Regions from separate parts of the Homo sapiens genome. Here all the other regions are linked to region 3. Evidence: fine-mapped QTL for protein levels in blood plasma. Region 3 holds a variant in brackets. A gene starts in each other region. All regions are shown on their forward strands. Region 1 holds the start of KIRREL2 (kirre like nephrin family adhesion molecule 2). Region 2 holds the start of SERPINI2 (serpin family I member 2). Region 3 holds the start of ARHGDIG (Rho GDP dissociation inhibitor gamma).

The links. PIP is the chance, under the fine-mapping model, that this variant and not a neighbour inherited with it causes the effect. Protein levels are from antibody-based Olink assays in UK Biobank. Linkage for the fine-mapping came from a reference panel and not from the study's own genotypes, which makes the PIPs less certain.
Region 1: KIRREL2 starts here. The variant in region 3 is fine-mapped to the plasma level of the KIRREL2 protein (UK Biobank, PIP above 0.99).
Region 2: SERPINI2 starts here. The variant in region 3 is fine-mapped to the plasma level of the SERPINI2 protein (UK Biobank, PIP above 0.99).

Annotation. Positions count from the first base shown.
Region 1 is chr19:35,851,806-35,859,499 of GRCh38, forward strand. KIRREL2 (kirre like nephrin family adhesion molecule 2) reads left to right here and starts at 5,106. Exons shown (of 15, transcript NM_199180.4): 1 at 5,106-5,375; 2 at 5,540-5,689; 3 at 6,603-6,752; 4 at 6,899-7,059; 5 at 7,676-7,694. The coding sequence starts at 5,315. NPHS1 (NPHS1 adhesion molecule, nephrin) reads right to left here and starts at 699. Exons shown (of 29, transcript NM_004646.4): 1 at 1-699. The coding sequence starts at 32. RefSeq lists an enhancer at 1-627.
Region 2 is chr3:167,472,305-167,480,526 of GRCh38, forward strand. SERPINI2 (serpin family I member 2) reads right to left here and starts at 1,738. Exons shown (of 9, transcript NM_006217.6): 1 at 1,699-1,738. WDR49 (WD repeat domain 49) reads right to left here. Exons shown (of 19, transcript NM_001366157.1): 19 at 6,380-6,692. The coding sequence ends at 6,574. It overlaps LOC105374197 (a long non-coding RNA gene), which reads left to right. Exons shown (of 3, transcript XR_924683.3): 3 at 2,068-2,156.
Region 3 is chr16:278,384-286,651 of GRCh38, forward strand. It overlaps ARHGDIG (Rho GDP dissociation inhibitor gamma), which reads left to right and starts at 2,208. Exons shown (of 6, transcript NM_001176.4): 1 at 2,208-2,370; 2 at 3,363-3,542; 3 at 3,642-3,725; 4 at 3,914-3,990; 5 at 4,084-4,147; 6 at 4,232-4,627. The coding sequence starts at 2,298. The coding sequence ends at 4,431. It overlaps PDIA2 (protein disulfide isomerase family A member 2), which reads left to right and starts at 4,781. Exons shown (of 11, transcript NM_006849.4): 1 at 4,781-4,985; 2 at 6,004-6,210; 3 at 6,276-6,409; 4 at 6,495-6,632; 5 at 6,701-6,817; 6 at 6,929-7,054; 7 at 7,123-7,320; 8 at 7,970-8,090; 9 at 8,171-8,268. The coding sequence starts at 4,787. RefSeq lists an enhancer at 2,349-3,106. The variant T/C (reference allele first, on the strand shown) is at 4,755.

The DNA of each region.
Region 1 (7,694 bases), not on the chromosome of region 3:
AGAGAAGCCCTGAGCGTCGTCCCCAGGGCCATCACAGGTCCCCCTACTGTGACCCCCACAGCGCCCGCTGCCAGCCACCTGCGTCTGTCTGGCTTTCTCTGGGTCCCTCTCTGTGTGTCTCTGCCACCTGCTTTTCTTTTTTATCTCTTTCCGTTACTCTCCTCCCTTTCTCGTTTTCCTCTTCCCCTCTTCCCTGTGAGTATCTCTCTCTGTCTTGCTCTCAGTCTCAATCTCTGAGTCTCTTTCTCTGTCTCTTTAAAAAAACTTTTTTTTCTTTTTTCTTTTTTTTTTCTTTTTTTTTTTTTTAGAGACGGGGTCTCACTATGTTGGCCAGGTTGATCTCAGACTCTTTCCTTCAAGCCATCCTCCCACCTTGGCCTCCCCAAGTGTTGGGATTACAGGCGTGAGCCACTGCGCCCAGTCTCTTTATCTTTCCATCTTTCTCTCCTTGTCTAAGCCGTTCTCTCTCCTTTTGTCTCTGTCTCTTCCTCTCTCTCTGTCTCTCTCTCTCTCTCTCTCTCAATCTCTATCTTCTCTCCTGCCACCCCTCACTCCTGCTCCTTGTCTCACTACTCACAGCCTTTCAAGAAGGACCTGCAGCCCAGAGTCCAGCAGGCCAGGAGCCTAGGAGAGCGATGAGGCTGATGCAGGCACTGGCAGAGTCAGCCCTGCTCTCTGACCCAGCTTGAGCTCATTCTCACAGTGCAACCTCCCCCAGGTACCTTCCAGAGCCCCCAGCTCTGGCCTCTGCCCAGCAGGCTCCTCCCAGCTGGCCCAGCTGGAGCATAAAATCCCCTGTCAGCACATGCCAGGCGCGTTCCTCGGTGCCTCCCCAGCCTCCGTGACCCCAGGGCCTGGCTTAGGCTGGGAAGATGGGAGAAGTCAGATCAAGGTGGTCTCCCAGCTCAGCAGGGGAGCAGCCAGCTGGGCCCCCAGCTCTTCCTTGCCCTGATACATGACCTTGGCAAGTCTCTTTCTTTCTTTCTTTCTTTTCTTGAGATAGTCTTGCTCTGTTGCTCAGGCTGGAGTGCAGTGGCATCTCGGCTCACTGCAACTTCCACCTCCCATGGCTTGAACCTCCCAGGTTCAAGTAATTCTCCCACCTCTGTCTCCCAAGTAGCTGGTGCTACAGGTATATAGCACCATGCCTGGCTAATTTTTGTATTTTTACTAGAGACGGGGTTTCATCATGTTGGCCACGCTGGTCTCGAACTCCTGACCTCAGGTGATCCATCTGCCTCAGCCTCCCAAAATGCTGGGATTACAGACATGAGCCACCGCACCTGGCCTCCCTTCCTTTTTTAGTAGACATCAGTGCCTAAATGATGTCAGGGATCTCTGCTGGGGAGGATGCAAGAGTGAGTGTGACAGGCTGGGAGAGTGTGGGAGAGAGGGAAGATATGCATGTGTGTACGTGGGTGTGAGAGTGGGGAAGGTTAGAGTGAACTGCGATCTGTAATAAGCATGTGGAGAGCGTGTGTGTGACAGTGTCTTACGTGGGAGTGCACAGGGTGTGGGCGGGAGTAAAAGGCAGAGTCCAATTCCACCGGCCCCCAGTGTGGGTGCAGTGTGAGCCCAAAGTGGGCGCCCTTTGGCAAGGACTGCATGAGCTTTCTTCTCCCTCTTTTTCTTGCCCTCTCTCCCATCTCTTCTTTCCTTCTCCATGTCTCTCTCTCTCCCTCCCTCTATCTATCTTGATTTATCTTTCTTTCTTTTGAGATGGAATCTTGCTCTGTTGCCCAGGCTGGAGGGCAGTGGCATGATCTTGGTTCATTGCAGCCTCAACTTCCTGGGCTCAGGTGATCCTCCTGCCTCAGCCTCCTGAATAGCTGGGACTACAGGTGCACACCACCACTCCAGCTAATTTTTTAAAATTTGTTTGTAGAGACAGGGTCTTTCTCTATTGCCCAGGCTGGAGTGCAGTGGTGTGATCATGGCTCATTGAAGCCTCAAACCTCCTAGGCTCAAGTGTTCTTTCTGCCTCAGCCTCCTGAGTAGCTGGGACTACAGGCCCGCATCACCACTCTGGCTATTTTTTTTTTTTTTTTTTTTTTTTTGAGAGGGAGTCTTGCTCTGTCACCCAGGCTGGAGTGCAATGGTGCGATGTTGGCTCACTGTAACCTCCGCCTCCCAGGTCCAAGCGATTCTCCTGCCTCAGCCTCCTGAGTAGCTGGGAATACAGGCATTGACCACCACACCCAGCTAATTTTTGTATTTTTAGTAGAGACGGGGTTTCGCCATGTTGGCCAGGCAGGTCTCGAACTCCTGACCTCAGGTAACCCACCTGCCTTGGCCCCCCAAAGTGCTGGGATTACAGGTGGGAGCCGCTGCACCCCGCCACTTGGCTAATTTTTTTTAAATGTTTTTGCAGAGACAGAGTCTTGCTATATTGCCCAGGCTTGTCTGGAACTCCTGGGCTCAAGCAATCCTCCCATCTCGGCCTCCCAAAGTACTAGGATTACAGGCATGAGCCACCGCACCTGGCCCTTGATTTATCTTTCTTTTTTTTCTTTTTTCTCTTTTTTCTTTTTTTGAGATGGAGTTTCACTCTTGTTGCCCAGACTGGAGTGTAATAGTGTGATCTCGGCTCACTGCAACCTCTGCCTCCCGGGTTCAGGCGATTCTCCTGCCTCAGCCTCCCTAGTAGCTGGGATTACAGGCATGCGCCACCACGCCTGGCTAATTTTTTGTATTTTTAGTAAAGACGGGGTTTCTCCATGTTGATCAGGCTGGTCTCGAACTCCTGACCTCAGGTGATCAGCCTGACTCGGCCTCCCAAAGTGCTGGGATTGCAGGCGTGAGTCATTGTGCCCAGCTGATTTATCTTTCTATCTTTCTCCATCTGTTTGAGACTCTCTCGCTCTCTATATTAAGTTGTTAAATCTCAGTCAATCTTTATTTCACTGTGTCTCTCCATCTCTATATGTCTCTGTTATTCTGTTTCTCTGTCTCTGTTCTCACCTCTGTCGCTCCCCTCACCCCACAGTCTGTCTCACACACACCAGGAGCTCCATAAATATTTGTTCTCAGCCACACTCTGACCACGCCTCTTTCTCTTATGTGTCTCTCCATCTCCGAGTGGCTCTGCTCATCACATCCCTGGATTTTATAACCATATGCTGGTGGGCCTGCCCTCCCCGCGTGCACATACACTTGCCTGGGATAAGCTTCTTCTGCCTGCTTATCTCCTGCGGGAATTGGAAATGCTAGTTTTCTCCCTACCTCCCCAAGACCCCCGCCAATATCGTTCCCAGGAACAAGATGAGGCATCTGGCCTCAGCCCCCAGCTTCATCCTCGATGCTGGACTTCCATCTTCCCTCACATGCTTGACTCCTTGCCCTCCTCCCACCTCCCCTCTCCCAACTGCTCTCTACACCCCCTGGGAAATGGGCTGGATGCCGAGCTGGGGGAGTGGCTCTGTCCTGGGGGCCCTCGCCAGATGGTGTCCCTAGGTGCCAGAGCGTGGAGCTGTCCCTTGCTGGGGCCTTTAATAAGCACAAACCTTCCACCCTCCACCTTGGCTGTTTTCCTTCTCTGCATGCTCCTGGGACCTTGGGCTCTCCATCTTTCCATGTCCGTAGCCCCAGAGAGCCAGGAAGGGGAAGCGGCGTCAAGTGCCTGGAAAAACAGCCCCATGACTTGAGTTCCTCCCTAAGACTCAGGAGTTCCAGCCCCATGTCCATCCTATTTCAAAATCCAGGCACTAGATAAGCCACACAGAAGCCGGGAGTGTAGGCCCCCAGATCCCTCCCCTCTCAGACCCTGGGGTCTCAGTCCCTTCTCTCCAAGGACTCGGGAATTTGGGCCTCTGATCCTCCTGGCCACACTACCCACCCCCGCACCTCCCCATACACACACACACACACACACACACACACACACACACACACACACACACACATACACACAGGACTTAGGACAGATGTTCACGGTCTGATTTCCAAATCCTCCTGGGCCTGTGTGGGGGTGGGGAGAGATTGGCAGATAGATCCACCGACTCTTAAGACTTAAGACCAGATATTCTGACCCCTGTCACCCTCTTCCAAGTGCACCATGCACTTGAGTGCACCTTGAGTCTCCAGCCTCTCAAGGAACCGGGAGATCAGGCCATCAGCGTCTCAGCCAGCAAAGGCCTGAACCACCAGTCCCTTATAACCCTGTAAGTCCAACCCCCACTCCCAACCCCACTCCCCCATTTAGGGACACGGAGTCTGAGCCTAAGAACAGTGGAGAATCTGAATGTGGACCCTCCAGTTCTTACAGGTCCAGGAATGTCAGATCAGGGTCCCAGCCCCCCAGCCCTCCTTCAGGCTGCTCGGGGTCCCTCCCACCTGCTCGGCCAGCTGCGCAGCGTGGGAACGCCCCAGCTGGGCTGCATGGAGCCGTCAGGACAAGCTGCGCGGTTCCCAGCCTCCCTGCCTGCCCCGGCCCGGCACCGCCGCCTCCCAGCCGTCGCCGGGCAACCAGGCCGAGGGGCCCGGCCGGCCGAGTGGGGAGAGGGGTTGGGCTGGGACTGCGGGGTCCTGGGAAAGGAGGGGCCGAGGGCCTGGATTCCTGGGTCTTAGGACGTGCTGTAGTTTGCAGCAATAACAAGGGAACAGAGGGATATTTTGAGGAGGGGTTTTGAGGCTGGGGGAGTCGAGGTAGGGGTCCCAACTGTCCCCCAGGTATCGGTGTGCCCTCTTCCCGACACGCAGGCCCGGGGGAGCCCCGGACCCCGCATCCCCCAGGGCGCGGAAACTGGCGAGGCCCCAGGAGCTCCCATTTATAGCTCAGTTTCCACTGAGCGCAGTCCCTCTAGGACCTGGGCTGAGCAAGTTTCTTCCACTCTCTCCCTTCCCTCCTCCTCACCCCTTGCCTGCCCCTCAACCCCGGCAGGGCGCAGGTGTCCAACCCAGCCGGGACCCCCTCCCTCCTCGAACCCAGGTGTTCCGGCTCCCAGACCCCAATTGAGCTGGGGGCGCCCACCCGCCGGGGGATCCCGCCCTGCGTCCCCCATTCATCCGCGTCTCAGCCGCGGGAGTTTCTCAACGGGAAGAGGGCGGAGCTCCCGGGGGGCGGACCCGGGCGGGGCGAGCGGGATCGGGCCCTCTTGGGGTCTCCCAGAGACCCAGGCCGCGGAACTGGCAGGCGTTTCAGAGCGTCAGAGGCTGCGGATGAGCAGACTTGGAGGACTCCAGGCCAGAGACTAGGCTGGGCGAAGAGTCGAGCGTGAAGGGGGCTCCGGGCCAGGGTGACAGGAGGCGTGCTTGAGAGGAAGAAGTTGACGGGAAGGCCAGTGCGACGGCAAATCTCGTGAACCTTGGGGGACGAATGCTCAGGATGCGGGTCCCCGCCCTCCTCGTCCTCCTCTTCTGCTTCAGAGGGAGAGCAGGTACCGCACGAGGGGAGCGGAGGAATATGGGGTGGGGGTGGGGAGTTGCTTGCGGGCTGCCTCTTCACTAGCGAGAAGGGAGCTGGGGGCTGGGACTCCTGGGTCCTGAATGAGGAGGCCCCTGAAGGTGCTAAGCTCAGCCCTGCTGCCCCGAACTCTCCTAGGCCCGTCGCCCCATTTCCTGCAACAGCCAGAGGACCTGGTGGTGCTGCTGGGGGAGGAAGCCCGGCTGCCGTGTGCTCTGGGCGCCTACTGGGGGCTAGTTCAGTGGACTAAGAGTGGGCTGGCCCTAGGGGGCCAAAGGGACCTACCAGGTAAGAGTGTTCTCTCCACGCTGGGACGGGCTGGCTAGGGGGAGAGTTGCTGGGCTCGGCTGTACCTGCAGTTTCTATTTTGACATTTTCAAGTTTGGGAAATTGATGGGCTCGGGTAAACATTTAGGAGTCCTGATTTTTGAGCTGCTTCTTTGGGGGTGACCCACGGAGTTTGGGAATTATTATGTTATTGCAAAATAGTACATAGGCCAGGTGCAGTGGCTCACGCCTGTAATCCCAACGCTTTGGGAGGTTGAGGCCAGAGGATCGCTTGAAACCAGGAGTTTGAGACCAGCCTGGGCAACATAACAAGACCTTATCTCTACACAAATGTATATATATATTTTAAACAAATTAGCCGGGTATGGTGGTGTGCATCTATAGTCCCAGTTACTCAGGAGGCTTAGGTGGTAGGATTGCTTGAGCCTAGGAGTTCAAGGCTGCAGTGAGCCATGATCAAGCCACTGCACTTCAGGCAATGGTGAGACCCTGTCTCAAAAAAAAAAAAAAAAGAGAACATAAATGCAAAAAAGTACAGTAAATATAAATGGAAGATTTACCAAATAAAATAGACACACACAGCCAATACCCAAGTCCATTGCTAGCTCCCCAGAAGACCCCGTGTTCCTTTCCCCTATCATAGCCCCCTCCCCCTCACTCCAGAAGTAGTATCTAACCTAATTTTTATGGCAATCATTTTCTTGCTTTCCTTCCTGACTTTATTACCCCTAAGTTTGCAGTGACTCTGGGTTGGGAGGGAGTTAGAGTCTCTCTGGGCCCAGTACACACTTTTTAATAGTGTCTTACCACCAAATGTGTGGGCCAGTTTTCTGGTGGAGGATGTCTGGGGATGGAGGCCTGAGGCCAGGATTTCAGAACCATGGTGTGCTGACTGCCTTCTCCCTGACTCCAGGGTGGTCCCGGTACTGGATATCAGGGAATGCAGCCAATGGCCAGCATGACCTCCACATTAGGCCCGTGGAGCTAGAGGATGAAGCATCATATGAATGTCAGGCTACACAAGCAGGCCTCCGCTCCAGACCAGCCCAACTGCACGTGCTGGGTAAGGACCTCGCCCACTTGTCCCCTGGGAGCCCAAGAGGGCAGCCCGTACTAGCTGTGAGTAGCAGAGCCCAGGGAGCCCAGGGGCATGGTCAATTGGAGCTGAGAAGATCAGGATCCATCTCTGACCCCAAATCCACCTTGCAGTCCCCCCAGAAGCCCCCCAGGTGCTGGGCGGCCCCTCTGTGTCTCTGGTTGCTGGAGTTCCTGCGAACCTGACATGTCGGAGCCGTGGGGATGCCCGCCCTACCCCTGAATTGCTGTGGTTCCGAGATGGGGTCCTGTTGGATGGAGCCACCTTCCATCAGGTCAGGTCCAAATTCCTGTGCTAGCCTTTGCCCATTGAGGGAAACTTGGGTTACACTCTGACCACAGGCTCATCCAGAAGAGAAGAAGACATGGGAGGGCAGAGGTTCATGGGTTTGGACTCTTGAAATATGATGCAGGGTAAAGATTCTAGGGCCAGACTACCTGGGTTCAAATTATGTCTCAGCCACTTGCTAGTTGATTGATCTTGAGTAAGTTAGTTAACCTCTCTGTGCCTCAGTTGCCTTATCTATACAATCAGGATAATAGTAGCATGCATGTCATAGGGTATTGTGAGAATTAAATAAATAAATACCTATAAATGCCCAGAAGAGTGACCAATACATAGTGAGCACTATATAAGTAAGGCAAGCTTGTCCAACCTGCGGCCCATGGGCTGCATGCAGCCCAGGATGGCTTTGAATGTGGCCCACCACAAATTCATAAACTTTCTTAAAACATTATGAGACTTTTTTGTAATTTTTTAGCTCATCAGCTATCATTAGTGTTAGTATGTGTGGCCTAAGACAATTCTTCTTCCAATGTGGCCCAGGAAAGCCAAAAGATTGGACACCCCTGATGGGTAGATGGCATTATTATTCTTATCCTTCCCTCCAGACCCTGCTGAAGGAAGGGA
Region 2 (8,222 bases), not on the chromosome of region 3:
TATTAGAAAATTAATGTATTCTAAAGCAACTGAGTAATCTGGCTAACTTTTTACAATTTTCCTCACGCTTTATTTCTTAGGACAAAATAACCCAAAGCCCTCTTCCTGCTTTTCCAAAAGAAGACAAATACAATGCAGAAAACCTGCAAAGTTTGAAACAAAATGGCAATCAAATATAAATGATACAATAAAGTACTATGCTCACTACCTGGGTGATGAGATCATTTATACCCCAAACCTTAGTGTCAGGCCATATACCCATGTAGCAAACCTGCACATGTACATTAATCTGTAATAAAACTTGAAATTATAAAAGAAAAAATATAAATAAAATGAAATATAATATCAAAGAATTGACAGAAATACTAACAAATGTAAGAGTAGCAGCAATTAAAAACCATAAACAATTCACAAGACTAATAATACCCTATTAAAGTGCTCTCCACTAAAATTGCAGGAAATTCAACCATTTGATTATATCTCAAGCAGAATTAGTTTTGCAATATTACCACATATTTGGTAGAATGTTGACTCCAAGGCCTCATAAATTTTAGTAACAATAATTTTACCTTATAAATAATACATGTTAGTAATCCTTAAAAACTTATCCATCAGTAAGTTACTAGGAAGTAACCCTTAATTAGGGGTAAAGATGAAAGCCTTTAGAATAGTCTGTTGTCAGCCTTAAGTAGAGACTTACATTTCTAGAGTGTTTTGCAGATCATTAAGGGTACCATAAATGGTAGGAGTCCCTAAGAACAACTATATTTATATATAAAGATTACTAATAGTCAAATATTGTTCCAAATTAAACTATGGAGTCATTATTTATCCTTCAATGTATTTTGTTAAACTGTATTTGTTTAGATATATATTTGCAAAAGACAAAAGCCTCAAAAAACAATCCAAAGCAATTGTTAGAAAATGTGTTGGTAAACTTTAGATATAGACCTATATGCTATTAATATCAAGCAAATGTTTCATTAGGGATTAATTTAGCATATGAGCTTATAAATGAGAGTGCAACAATAGTTAAAAACCAGTGAGTAAGAGAAGTTTTACATGCAAAATAAATGTCTGTGTATCATTATCTTCTAATATATTCAATTTCTCAGAAGACTTCTGACCAAAATATGTGTTTGTAGATACGTAGTCAAAATGTTATTAGTACCTTTAAGTTATCAACTGGAAATACATTAGATATAGCTTTATGTATTTGGTTTATATTGGAATAATGAACAGTATTATTAAAAATGTAATTTTTTTCTTTGTGGTAGAATCTCAGTATTAGAGTTTCCTTCTCATTATTATTAATAATCTTAATAATTAAATTTATATTATTTGAGCATCCACATCCATTTTTTCTAGAAAATTTCTAAGCACTTAATAAATTATAACCTCAGACAAATATTGGTTTTAAAAACTCACTTACCTCATCAGGTTTTGGATCATATCTTATCAGAAAGCACAAAGTAATGCTGAACTAAACAACCTGATGAATAGTCCTATAAGAACTGGATCTTCTGATTTGTGGTGAAATCATTTAAGGAGAATAAAAGCGATATGTTAATTAAATAAATTCAAATGATTTTTACACCAAAGTAAATTGAAATGCCATTCCATACTCTACTAAACATTCATAGGCAATGTTATTGCATACATACTTATTCAAAAGCTATTTATTTCTAAGGTACTTACCCCAAACTGACTTCTGATTATTCACTGGAATGTTACAACTAAAATACGCTTGCTGGAAAACTCTTGTACATAAACACCTGAGCGATCAAGGCCAACTCCATTTATCTTGACCATTGCTTGATTAATTCCTCTAGAACAAAAGCAGGTGTTCACTACATTTGTATTAAGAACTAACACAATCGGGTTAATGATCAACTGATGAAATGTGCAAGAATTGAGAAAAAAACAATTATAGAATTTTTTAAAAGTATTAAATTTATATTATTATTTTATCCATTATTTTGCTTCTTTTAAAAGTTGCACAGAATTTGAAAGGATGCGCTACTGGTTGTAAATTTGCTAGTAATTAGTTCTTTTTGTTTCTCACAGGACTCCTACATCAGATTACCAATGCACTTTGTCATAAATATTTCAGAATGCCTATGAGAAAAAGAATAAAGCTAAATCAAGTCCAGAATACAGAGACAAATCACTGCTGCATTGACAGAGTTCTCAACATTCATCAAATTATACAATAGTCAGAGGAGTTTCCTGTGGATATAAGGTCCATTTGAATCCTTAAGAAAAAGAGTGGATATTGAAGAAATATGTTCTTTATTCTGAGCAGAAAGGCCAGCAAAAAAGATAATGGATTTGCCAAAATATATCAGGACAATACTATTAGCCATAGGTAATTGGATGATAAAAATTGCTGTTACCTTTATGTGCTTTTGAAACTCTACATGATTTTCTTTGCAAAAAGGTCATTAATAAAAAATTGCATAATTTAATGGGTTTCATCTCATTTTTGTAGTTCAAATCAATCACCTCAATGGCAATCAGATATTAAGCACATTGTATTATTTATCTATAGCCTTTGAGAAGAGAAAAAAAATTTAGTTCACTTTTAATTAAATATCTGTTGATCCCCAAATTTAATACTATTTCTGATAAACTCATGTAAAAGAAATAAAGTGAATATAGATAGCTTTAAATGGAATTCATTTTTAAAAACTTGTCAGAGGACCCTGTTAACATCTTTCCATGTCCTAACATGGCTATAACTTAAAAATAGGCCTGAGAATAGATCATTATAGGCCATAATCTACTAATTAACTAAAATTTTTTGATTTCCCATATAGGCATCTCCAAATGTTTTCTAGATCTTGAGTTTTATTCTAATATTACCTACTCTATCATAAGCACACTCTAGTGTAGCTTTAACTTAACACAGAGATAATTTTCCAAAAAGAGTTGTGCAATACAAGAATACTATCATTCTACTTGCTTCACACTGCAATACATAAATATTAAGTCTGAATGTCAAGACTATCATTCAATCAATGCTTTTCTACCCATTTACTGACACCAGCAAACATATATCACCAGTACCCTTGGCTACCACATCATTATGTCTGTACACTGCTCAGATCACAATGTGATTTATCCAGAAATAGTCCATTACTTTTCCTACCAATGGCAGAGACCGTCACTCTGTCCTACTAAGACCATTTAATGAAATTGTTCTGTAAGGACCTTATATTAGAGCAGTTCAGGCAGAATGTTCATTTTCCTGTCTCTTGAGGAGTAAAAAGCAATAGCCATAAATTTATTCTCCCTGGTTTAACCTCTTTTAATAGACAATGACGACAATACAATTGTCCATAAAATATTACCACAAATTTTTAAAATATTTTCCCAAACCGCTTTTTTCTACAATTCTATTTTGCTCCTAGAAAATCGGGGTGGGGGGAGAATTATTCATTAATGAGAGCCAACGTGTCTTGGTAGAAGGTTGATCGCCATTACTGTCCGACTGTAAAGTATAAGCCTAGGAATATATATAAAAACCACAGCAAAGGGTTACAGTTATCATCTCATCAATTTTCTTATCCTTTTATAGTTTTTTCAAGTAAAAGTGCACTTAATTCCAAACTTTAAAAATGTATAAGCAAATGCCCTCATCAGTAAAGAACTTAAAAGTTAATTCTTCCATTTAAGCATGGACTCATTTCAGGCAATTTTTTTTGGTAAGATTGTTCCTAAATTTTGAGTGATAATAGGAAAATGTTCTGACAAAAGAAAATGTTAAATTATATTTAGTGTAAATATAAGTAATACAAACAAGGTAGCCTATTGAAAATTATGACATATCCTATTTTAATGTGACCAATTCCTTTTACCACAGAAAAATGGATCATAAGTAATTGAATCTGAATGTTAATTTCAGAAACAGTTTATAATGCCTTCAGTTCTGTTAAGAGTTGACAGGTGAGATCCTGCTACCTGCCTAGAAAATTAGATGCTGTGAGTTACAAAAGAAGAGTAAGACACAGAAAAAAAGACATTGTCTTTTTTCTTCTTTTTGTGTTTTTTCTCCAAATTATTAGAAACAGTTACCTTGAAAGTCTCATACCTTTAAAAGTTCTCTTCTCATTGAATATATTTATGAGACAGCTCTTCTTAATTCCTTTTACAGAAGAAGCCCTGATGTTAATTAAGGATGGAATTAGAGTTACAGCATAATACCATGCACATGTAGTAGGCTATAGAGAGAAGGTCTGTCTGTATGAACCAGACTATCTCAGGCTATCACATCAAACAAAGTTATCTTCAAGGGTAAACAGTAAAGTATATCTAGCAAAAGAATTCCCAAATTAGACTGGAAAAAATATGCCAGATTATGAATTTCCAACTTATGCCAGTGGGCTCATTTAGTATTGGCTTAATAAACCACTACATTTTATATAGCTTCACTTCAGAACGCTGAGGGTAGAAAAGGTGCATTCTATTTATATGTGAATACCCGGAACCTAAAATAATCTCTTATACATGCCTTCAATACTTACATGAGGGATGGACGGATCAGTGGGGAAAAGAGCCTTTGCAAATTATTTGGTACCCGCATTCTACTTTTATAACATCTTAACATTCCATTAAATTTCTGGGCATGTGGCTCAGATTTCACTCCATTGTACTATCACCAACCTATGATTCATAAATCATGTGCTCTGAGTTTGAAATGATGGATTACCCAGTCAAACCTCCTACCCAGTGCAAGAAGTCTTTGCAATATCCCCGTGAGACAGTTACCCAGTGTCTGCTTGAACATCTCAAATAATCTTTTTGTTCAAAAGCAACTTTTTATATTTTAAAAAAATTTACCTTGAAATACTTTCAAATTTACATAAAAGTTGCAGATATAGTTCAAAGAACTGCTATCTCCACCTCCTCCTCTTTCCCCAATTGTTAGCATCTACCGCATGTGTGTGTTTCATCTATGTATCTATCCTCCCAATAAGCAAACAGATGTAAATATAGATATGTATATGTGTTACCTGTGTGTGCATATATATACATTTTATATATACATATAATTAGTATTTTCTGAATCATTTTATAGCAAGCTAAAAACATAATTTCTATCATACTTAAACATTCTATTATTATATTTTTCTAAAACAAGGACACTTCTTGTACATCATCACACCACCCAACAGACAAACACACACGCACACACACACAGAGACAAATATACTTTTCTCCTACAATCTTTCCTGCATGTAATTTTCATTCCATGAGGAGGAAAGGCGATATGAATAGAAGTCATAATGCCTAACTCAGAATACACTTAAATGTAGTTAGAATAGGCAGCTGTCTTCTGAAAGTCCTTCCATCACCGCCTTCTCCACCAAACCAAAATATTTGCTCCACTGGTGCTGGAAAGTCTAGTGTTAGAATTCATTCCATTGGCTTTATACTAATAAGAAGCAAGTGTACAGAATGATGAATGGCAAATACCATGGTTTGGGAGTAAAACAGACCTGGGTTCCAATCTCAACTCTGCCATTGATAATTGAGCACTCTCCTAATAGATTCGCATCTCATATTTTAGCTCTAAGCTAATATATTCATATGATTATTGTGTGGTTTAAACACAATGGACATTTGCAGTTGCTATACCAAGTGGTCCCCTACCTATTGCAAATTATTTTCCTTTACTACATGTGTTATTGAAAAATTCTTCTTAAACTTTAGCTGGTTTTGAAAGCACTCTTTAAAATATAAATATACAGTAAGTCATTATAGTTATGTAAATGAATTTACCAATTCTTTCTATAGGACACAATAAATAAAGCAGAATAATAATATTGCCTGGAAGATGATTATATTTGTAAATAAAAATGGGTCAACAAACAGAGGCAGTAAGTTAAAGAACCAAATATTTCCCACTTGACTTTCCACATAGAGTGGGTCCTTTATATAGCCCCAGGCCCTTTGATTTTTTTTCAAGACTATTACATCTTCAATGTGCTATGGCATTCAATTTTAAAGTACAGTATAACAAACTATTGAAGTAGATCATATGCAGTAATTTTCCAATAAGTTTATAGAATGAATAAAAGCCAATAAGAATTAACAGGAAGTGGTGCTATTGACAAAGTCTAATCACCATTATGAGAATCATTTAAAAACTACTAGAAAGTGTAAAAAAGTGGAAACAGTTTTCTTATTCACATTTGTAGATATTTACTCCGTCAGTACTTTTCATATATTTCAATGCAGGTTTTACAATGAAAACTGATCAAAAGTGTTTGTCTATAGGAACAACCAGAAGGGCAACTGGTTAGAACTTTGTTCTGGAATCATAAAGTTTTTATATAAAAATCCTTGAGAATAAATACCAAGATGTTGCTCCCACTTTAGTTCAATATTTATTTTATTAAGAATACAGAGAAATTGACAGATGATAGATAAAAGCAGTACTAAATTATCCCATGAAGAGAAAACTTCCTGAAGTTTAAATATAAAATAAAATAAAAGGCAGAATTCTTGATGCTTTTTCTGCATTTTATATCTGTACCTTATGTAACAGTGAAGGTTTTTCTGTTGTAATTACTTCTTATTTTTCTTCACTTCACAACTTTTTTCTTGGCATAATTGCTTGGCTTTTCGTTCATGATGCAGAATTTCCTTGGGAAACAGGTTTTTCTCATCAAATACAGCTTTCAAAGCTACAAAATGATGAGGAAAATCACAAGTGAATTATATTTGTTAAGAGACCTATTTAAATGAAATAGTGGGGAGAAAATTCTCAAATTTTGCTTTTTCTAAAAATCTTTGTTTCTAAAACACAGAGTGTATTTGGAAAAATTTTCTCTAAGCTTCTGCTATTCTGTTTACTGCAATTTACATCTAAAAGTTAAATTTTGGTAGAGTTTGTTCTTTTAATGCATATATCTTAATAGAAATCCACCATTCTAAGGGTAGAGGATTATAGAAGTTCCTGTTTTCCATTTTTGTTTTTTAATCTACTTAACAGCTATCAAGACATAAAGAGCCAAGAAAAAATTATTCTGTATTGAAATAAGGCAATTAAAATAGTCAAAACACAGTTTGACTGTCTGCATGAATAAACAAGCGCATCTATAATCACGTCCATAGGGGTTTGCAGTTTTAGGAAAAAAAAGAACCAAATTATTTCCATGAGTGGTTATATTGCGCATCAGTGAGAAGTAGGAGGAAATTGTGCCATACATTCTAGAAAATAATTTTGGCATTTTGCATAATTTTATTATTTAAACAAATGCTTATTGAATGTCTATTATACACAATGTTCTGTGTTGAGGCATAAATGAGGCACAAATATGACTAAGTCACAACCTTTCTTCCAATTGGTGGAAACTAGAAGCAGTACCCAAATAACCAAAACATCATATACAATAAGATATCATTCCAAGAGAATATAAGCAATGCAAACTGTGTATAAACATGTAAAAGATATTATAACAATATATAAAGATTTTTTAAAAAGCTTTAAGAATTAGGTACTTATTTGAGGTAGGTCTTGAATTCCAGATAGGACTTTAATTGAGAATAAGAAACATGGAGGTGGGGAAGAATTGGCAAGGGTTGGATAGGAAGTGTCAACTGGAGGAAACAAGGTGAATAAAGCATGGAAAAAAAGGCCGGGCACGGTGGCTCACGCCTATAATCCCAGCAATTTGGGAGGCCGAGGCAGGTGAATTGCCTGAGGTCAGGAGTTCGAGACTAGCCTGGCCAATTTAGTGAAACCCCGTCTCTACCAAAAATACAAAAAAATAAGCCAGGCATGGTGGCAGGCGCCTGTAATCTCAGCTACTCGGGAGGCCAGCTACTCGGGAGGCTGAGGTAGGAGAATTGCTTGAACCCAGGAGGCAGAGTTTGCAGTGAGCCGAGATCAAGCCATCGCACTCCAGCCCAAGCAACAGAGAGAGACTCTGTCTAAAAAAAAAAAAAAAAAAAAAAAAGGAAAAATAATAACTACTATTAGAATAACTCTGAATAATTCAGTACAATTTAAAAGAAGCATAAAATATGTGAAAGAAAGTAAAGTGGAATAAATTTGGAGCTGGACCTAGGAACACTTTAAACACCAACCAAAGCATATGAAATTAAAAAGTAAACATTGAATGACTTTACAGTATAGTGGCATCTTTATATATTTGGATTAAACACAAAACGAAACAAAAACTTTCCACTTCCAGTGTAAACTATACTGTAGA
Region 3 (8,268 bases):
CCTGTCTGTAAGGGCCTCAGTTTCTTGCTGTGTTGCCTAGGCTGGCTGATCTTGAACTCCTGGCCTCAAGTGATCCTCCTGCCTCAGCCTCCCAAATGTTGGGATTACAGGCATGAGCCATGGCACCTGGCTATGTATTTATTTTTTGAGAGATGGCAGTCTCATTCTGTCACCCAGGCTGGAGTGCAGTGGTGCAATCATAAACTCATTGCAGCCTCAAACTCCTGAGCTCAAGTGATTCTCCCACCCCAGCGTCCTGAGTAGCTGGGACTACAGATGTGTACCACCGCATCTGGTCTATTTCTGCTTTCTTGGAGGCAGAGTACCTCTCCCCATCCTTACCCACTCAGAGGGTGCTAGGGGCTGGGCAGGGTGGGCGGTTGGCCTTGGGCTGGGAGCCCCTAACATAGTGGTCTGAGTCCATTTCCATTGCCGGAGAGGCCACGTTCAGCATGAGCTGGGGCAGGGGGCTTGTGGGGTCTCTTACTCCAGGGTACCATCTCGCTTGGATCCCAGTGAGCCCTCCCATGCCCCACACCCAGGTGGGGTGAGGTGGCCCAGGTCTGGCTGCCCTGTCTGCAGGGGTGGGCACCCATGGTAGCTGTGAGGCAGAATAGGGAATGAGGGTAGCCAAGGGTTGGGCATAAGAAACGGAACAGCAGGTGCAGCCAGTTCTAGGCAGGATTGGGCAGCTCACAAGCCACATCCTGGCTGCTGTGATAACAAGACAGAAATTTCCACTTCACCTCTGATTGGTCTCGGGCCAATCCTTCATAGGGTGTAGCCAATTGGAGGCCTCTAAAGGGCACAAGGGCTGTGGTCAGGTTTCTTTGCTTAATAAAAATCCTAATTACAGAGGCTCTGGAGCTACTTGCTCCAGCCCACTCCCACTCTGTGAATTGCCTTCCGTTAAATCTGTGCTTTCCTTACTCCGTTCTTCTGACTCAGTTTTGTTTCCTTGTGTTTCGTTGTTCTTTTGTTACTTTGTGCGTTTTGTTCAATTCTTTGTTCAACCCACCAAGAACCTGGACAACTCACCTCCAAGACCTTCTATCTGGTAACAGCTGCAGGAGCTGGAGCTGTGGGCCTGGGGACAAGTGTCCTAACAGCCCCCGCTCCCTGCAGCGAAGGGTCAGCAGAGGTGGCGCTCTAGGGGGGCCTGGGCACAAGTTCATAGGATCCTGCCCTGGAAAGGTTGTGGGCAGTTGGGGGGCAAGGGAGACAGTCCCCACCCAAACCCCAATGCCCCCTAGCACCCAAGGTGGTCTTCTCTCAATTGAGGAGCTCTTTGGCAAGGGCGGGTCTAATTTCTGGTGTCCCTGGAACCGGCCAGGGGTGTCTAAGAAAGGGACTCAGGCTGGTGTTCGGACCCCTTCTCCCTTATCCAGACGCAGGCCTTTGGTCCAGCTGTCCCAGCCAGGGCCTGCTCACCCCTGTCCCCTGCCGGGTCCCATCCCCCCCACCCACCCACAGGTCTCAGTTTAGGTGTCAATATCAGAAGCCCCCTCTGTGCTCCGGTCTCTGTACTCCGCCCCCTTGTCAGTGTCCTCTCCCTGAGGACAGGGGGCTCGGTAACTGGGTTTCCAAGAGCCCTGCAGGGACACCCCCTCTTGGGAACTCACACAGCGCAGCCAGGTCGCTAAGCCTTTGAGGGGCCCTTGTTGCCTCCTGGGTGTGCGTGCGACCCGCGCCCACTGTGGTCCCGCCCTACTGATGACCGTGAACCTGTAGGGTGTTGGGCCAGCCCCTCACCCCAAGGCTGGGCAGGCCCCCGGAGTCCCCCTCGGCCCAGACAGAAGCTCCCTCAGGAGCGGGGGAGGGGAAGGGGGCGCGCGGTCCGGCCCCAGGTGTGGCCGCGGATAATGAGACCCTGGGGATGGGGGCGCACCTGCGCCACGGCGCCCCGCAGAGGGTTTCCCAGGAGACCCCCTCGGGCTCCCGCCGCGCCGTGGGGGTGGGGCAGCCCTGCTGGCCAGAGCCGGGCACGGGCCGGGCGGGCGGCGGGGATCGTGACCGCGGCTGCGTGCGTCCGCGTCCGGGCGCTTCTGTGCGGGGTCCTGGCACGCCGGCGGGGGCGACCCGGGTGCCGGCCCGTGCGGGCGACACGCGCGTCTCTGCGGGGCTGCGCGGGGTCCGGAGCGGCTGGGGGCTCTCTGCCGGGCGCGGCTGGGCGCGGGGGGCGCTCCCGGCCGGGATGAGCTCACCGCAGTCGCGCCGGGGCTGAGCGCCGAGCGGGGCGGCGGCGGGGCGGGCGGCGGCTCCTCGGCGGCTCCGCGGCGCCCGGGCCGCGCGCCGCCATGCTGGGCCTGGACGCGTGCGAGCTGGGGGCGCAGCTGCTGGAGCTGCTCCGGCTGGCGCTGTGCGCCCGAGGTGAGCGGGCCGGGCAGGGGCGGGGGGCTCGGCTGGTCTCAGCCCCGGGCGGGGAGTAGCCCCTCCCCCGCGGCAACTTTGGGGGCGCGCATGGGGACCTCGCGGCGCCGACCCCCCGGCTGGGGTCTGGCAGGGGTGGGGGACTTCATCCAGGCTCCAGCCCTGTGGGGAAGGGACCAGGTGCGGACGGGTCGGCTTGGGAAGCGGCGGCGCTGGGACCCTCTCCCCCTGGACACCGCCGCCTGGAGCCCCTCTGTCTTGGGTGGGGCTGGGGCTGGGGCTCAGGCTCTGTAGGGCGTGTGGTGATCCCCGAGAAGACGGGAGCGAAGTGGGCAGGGACTCAGAAACCCCTGCCCAGGGCACCAGGGAGAGGGGCTTCAGGAGGCCACCAGCCCGGGGCGCCATGGGAGGCGGCGCAGAGCCTGAGCCCAGGGATTTGGAGACAGCCGCCCCCGGCACCCGAGCACCATGGGGAGGAACTCCTAGACTGTGGGAAAGTGTTCAGAGACCCCAGTCCAGAGCAGGGTGGTGGAGGGCCCTAGAGGGTCAGTAGGCTTGGGGGGCCGCCGAGGGCCCTAGAGGGTCAGTAGGTTTGGGGGCCGCCGAGGGCCCTAGAGGGTCAGTAGGTTTGGGGGCCGCCGAGGGCCGCTGCTCTCTAGCAGGTAGCCCCTGACCCTGGGCTGCCCTCATCTGAAGTCTTCGCTCCCCCGCCCTTTGGTCTCCGAGTCAGGGAGGGGGCCCTTGTGGACATCTGGGCCAGAGGAGCTGCAGGCCTGGCGGTCTCTGGAGGCCCCTCCTGAAGGTCTGGGTGCGGTGCGGCACCTCCCCAGGCCGCCCTGCTCTCTCTGCTCGCTCTCTCCCTGAGCCCCCAGAGGCTTCCCTTGAGTCCCTTTGGATAGTGGGAGGTACAGCTGGCCAGAGGGGGCTCCAGCCTGGTGCTCGAATGCCAGGGTCCGCTAGTGGCTGCTGCTCACGCCCCTCCCCACCCCCAGTCCTCCTGGCTGACAAGGAGGGTGGGCCGCCGGCAGTGGACGAGGTGTTGGATGAGGCTGTGCCCGAGTACCGGGCGCCGGGGAGGAAGAGCCTCTTGGAGATCCGGCAGCTGGACCCGGACGACAGGAGCCTGGCCAAGTACAAGCGGGTGCTGCTGGGGCCCCTGCCACCGGCCGTGGGTATGGCAGGGGTCTAGGCTTGGAGGGCTGGGTCTGGGGGGCTGGTGAGGAGCCTGGTGGGGGTGGGGGGCATCCTGCAGACTTCCAGTTTCTCCTCAGACCCAAGCCTGCCCAATGTGCAGGTGACCAGGCTGACACTCCTGTCGGAACAGGCTCCGGGGCCCGTCGTCATGGATCTCACAGGTAACTCGCAGGATGCTGCACCCTGAACACAGGTAGGGCCCTCCCAGGCACGCTTCTGCACCCCTGAGTTCCGAGCCCTGGGCCATCACAGTCGCACACCTCATGGGTACCACACCCTACGTGGGGGCTCCTGGAGCAGGTCTCAGCCTGTAGGGGAGTTCCGACCCTAGCTGAGGTTTCCCCAATAGGGGACCTGGCTGTTCTGAAGGACCAGGTGTTTGTCCTGAAGGAAGGTGTTGATTACAGAGTGAAGATCTCCTTCAAGGTGAGAGCCGGGGCAATGGGCGGAGGGGATGGGGGTGGGGGCAACAGCCAGAGGCCTGGCCCCCAGAGGAACCCCTAATGCCTCTGTTCCCAGGTCCACAGGGAGATTGTCAGCGGCCTCAAGTGTCTGCACCACACCTACCGCCGGGGCCTGCGCGGTGAGGGCAGCGGTGGGGGGAACGGGGCGGGGGGGGGAAGCGGGGGCAGACAGAGGACAGCTCTGATGCCCTCGCCCTCCCTAGTGGACAAGACCGTCTACATGGTGGGCAGCTATGGCCCGAGCGCCCAGGAGTATGAGTTTGTGACTCCGGTGGAGGAAGCGCCGAGGGGTGCGCTGGTGCGGGGCCCCTATCTGGTGGTGTCCCTCTTCACCGACGATGACAGGACGCACCACCTGTCCTGGGAGTGGGGTCTCTGCATCTGCCAGGACTGGAAGGACTGAACCCCCAGTCCGTGTCTCCCCTACCTCCCTCAGTTGTTGCACAGGGACCCCCAAGCATCCCCAGCACCCCCCGTGAGTGACCAGACCCTCCCCTGCTGCCCCTGCTGCCCCTGCTGCCCCTGCTCTGTCCCGGGACCCCCTGGCCTGGCGCTGTCCCCTGAGCTGTCCCATTAAACATGGCCCTGTCTCTCTCGGTGCCCTGGGTGTCGTCTCTTTCTGCCTCCCCTCCCCTGGGGGCCGGGGGCGGCCGCATGGGCCTTGTCTTTGCTGGGACTGGGCCTGTGTGCCACGTGGCAGCTGCTGCTTGGCTTCTGGCCCCCTTA[T/C]CTGCCCCCGCCCCACGCGCCCTGGCAGCACCATGAGCCGCCAGCTTCTGCCTGTACTGCTGCTGCTGCTGCTCAGGGCTTCGTGCCCATGGGGTCAGGAACAGGGAGCGAGGAGCCCCTCGGAGGAGCCTCCAGAGGAGGAAATCCCCAAGGAGGATGGGATCTTGGTGCTGAGCCGCCACACCCTGGGCCTGGCCCTGCGGGAGCACCCTGCCCTGCTGGTGGAATTCTGTGAGTGCTGGGGCCAGTGGGGCTGGGGACCGGCGGGGGACCGGCAGAGCCCACCTGGGGGCCCCACCCTTTGCCGGCAAATGCAGGGCATGTGCCCAAGAGGGGCCTCCCCGCAGGCACTTGCCCCCACTGTGCCCAGGAGCTCTCTAGGAGGGGCCTGGGGGTCTGGTTGGGGCAGGCAGGAGCAGTGTGGTAGTACTGGGGGTACCCACAGGACTTGAGAACACCTGTGCCTCCCTGCTCGGCCAGCGGCCACGGTGCCAGAGTCACCACCTTGCCGGCCACTCCTCCAGCTGCCAGGGGCATCCCACAGACTCTGCAGAGGCTCGGGCAGTATCCAGGCTTTGGGGGCCCATGGAGGTCCCTGACGTGTGTGCCCTGTGGTCTTTTCGCAACCCTTGACACACATAGGAACTGTTCTTGCCTAGGAGGCCTTCACAGGCAGCCACATGGGCCCGGGAGCCCCAGCCATACAAGGCACGAAAGGGAGGGGTCTTTTTATTTTTATTTTTTGAGATGGAGTTTTGCTTTTGTCGCCCAGGCTGGAGTGCAGTGGCCCTATCTCGGCTCACTGCAACCTCCGCCTCCCAGGTTCAAGCAATTCTCCTGCCTCAGCCTCCCGAGTAGCTGGGATTATAGGCATACGCAACCAATCCCGGCTAATATTTTTTGTATTTTTAGTAGAGATGGGGTTTCTCCATGTTGGTCAGGCTGGTCTCGAACTCCCAACCTCAGGTGATATGCCCGCCTCTGCCTCCCAAAGTGCTGGGATTACTGGCGTGAGCCACTGAGCCTGGCTGTGGGGGGAGGGGGGGTGGTCTTTCAAGCTCTCCCAAGCCTTACTGGTCCCTGTGCTGCAGCCTGGGGGGCCACGAAGAGGCACTGGTGCTCGGCTTGTCCACGGCCAGGGCTCAGGGCAGAATGGAGCAGCACGCTTGTTCCCTGCTGGGTTGTCAGGTGTGGAGAGGGTGCTCCTGGGGTTGTGGTGGCCTGGGGCACTCACGGCCCCATCCCCCAGATGCCCCGTGGTGTGGGCACTGCCAGGCCCTGGCCCCCGAGTACAGCAAGGCAGCTGCCGTGCTCGCGGCCGAGTCAATGGTGGTCACGCTGGCCAAGGTGGATGGGCCCGCGCAGCGCGAGCTGGCTGAGGAGTTTGGTGTGACGGAGTACCCTACGCTCAAGTTCTTCCGCAATGGGAACCGCACGCACCCGGAGGAGTACACAGGTGAGGGGCAGGCCGGTCATTGGGGGGGCGGTGGCCAGGCCGAGGCTGAGGGGGACTCCCTGCAGGACCACGGGACGCTGAGGGCATTGCCGAGTGGCTGCGACGGCGGGTGGGGCCCAGTGCCATGCGGCTGGAGGACGAGGCGGCCGCCCAGGCGCTGATCGGTGGCCGGGACCTAGTGGTCATTGGCTTCTTCCAGGTGAGCCACTGGGCATGGGGGGCCGGGCCATGAGGGCAGTGACTGTGGGTGGGACCGGGTGGCCTCACAGGGCCAGGCCCCTCAGGACCTGCAGGACGAGGACGTGGCCACCTTCTTGGCCTTGGCCCAGGACGCCCTGGACATGACCTTTGGCCTCACAGACCGGCCGCGGCTCTTTCAGCAGTTTGGCCTCACCAAGGACACTGTGGTTCTCTTCAAGAAGGTAGGTCAGGCCCAGGTGTGGGTTGGGGTCCGGCTGCAGCGCCCGCTAACCCACCTGCTGCTGTCCAGTTTGATGAGGGGCGGGCAGACTTCCCCGTGGACGAGGAGCTTGGCCTGGACCTGGGGGATCTGTCGCGCTTCCTGGTCACACACAGCATGCGCCTGGTCACGGAGTTCAACAGCCAGGTGCGTAGGCTGCAGTGCCTGGGCTGGGGGTGTCCCAGGGTAGAGTCGTCCAGGGATGGGGGTGCCTAGGCTGGGGGTCCTGTGGAGTCATGAGCACCCTCCCTACTGTAGACGTCTGCCAAGATCTTCGCGGCCAGGATCCTCAACCACCTGCTGCTGTTTGTCAACCAGACGCTGGCTGCGCACCGGGAGCTCCTAGCGGGCTTTGGGGAGGCAGCTCCCCGCTTCCGGGGGCAGGTACTGGGGGGCTGGGGGAAAGGGGCAGCGGGAGAGTGGCCGGTGCCAGCATGGACTCCCTGCCACAGGTGCTGTTCGTGGTGGTGGACGTGGCGGCCGACAATGAGCACGTGCTGCAGTACTTTGGACTCAAGGCTGAGGCAGCCCCCACTCTGCGCTTGGTCAACCTTGAAACCACTAAGAAGTATGCGCCTGTGGATGGGGGCCCTGTCACCGCAGCGTCCATCACTGCTTTCTGCCATGCAGTCCTCAACGGCCAAGTCAAGGTCCGCTGCAGACTGCTCATAATGGAAGGGGAACCCTGACCTCATCCCACCAGCTTGGCAGGGGGTGGGAACAGCAGCTCTCAGAGCCCCCTGCCCCTGCAGGCCCCGCAGAGGCCCCCCTCAACCCGGCAATTCTCCCAACCCGGCGGTTCTCCCAACCCCAACCCGGCGGTTCTCCCAACCCCAAACCCGCGGTTCTCCCAACCCCAACCCCGCGGTTCTCCCAACCCCAACCCCAACCCCAACCCCAACCCCGCGGTTCTCCCAACCCCGCGGTTCTCCCAACCCCGCGGTTCTCCCAACCCCAACCCCGCGGTTCTCCAACCCCGCGGTTCTCCCAACCCCAACCTCAACCCCAACCCCACAGAGGTCCCTCCCCCCACCAAACCCCACAGTTCTCCCTCCCCCCACTAAACCCCACAGTTCTCCCAAACTTGAAGAGGACCTCCCTGTCAGGCCCTGCAGAGGATCTCCCCCCCACCTGCCCCCGGCCCCGCACAGGACCTCCCCCCCACCGCCCCCCCCACACAGAACCTCCCCCTGCCGCTGACCCCGCACAGGACCTCCCCCCCACCCCCCAGGCCCTGCACAGGACCTCCTGAACCCTGCAGAGGACCCCTGGCAAAGCGCCTGTCCTGGTTTCCCCCAGCCCTATCTCCTGAGCCAGGAGATACCCCCTGATTGGGATCAGCGGCCAGTTAAGACCCTCGTGGGCAAGAATTTTGAGCAGGTGGCTTTTGACGAAACCAAGAATGTGTTTGTCAAGTTCTGTGAGTGTTGAGGGAGGCAGGGGTGGTGTGGGCTGGGCAGGGGCTGCCCAGATGGCTGTGCTCAACGGCTCCCATCCTAGATGCCCCGTGGTGCACCCACTGCAAGGAGATGGCCCCTGCCTGGGAGGCATTGGCTGAGAAGTACCAAGACCACGAGGACATCATCATTGCTGAGCTG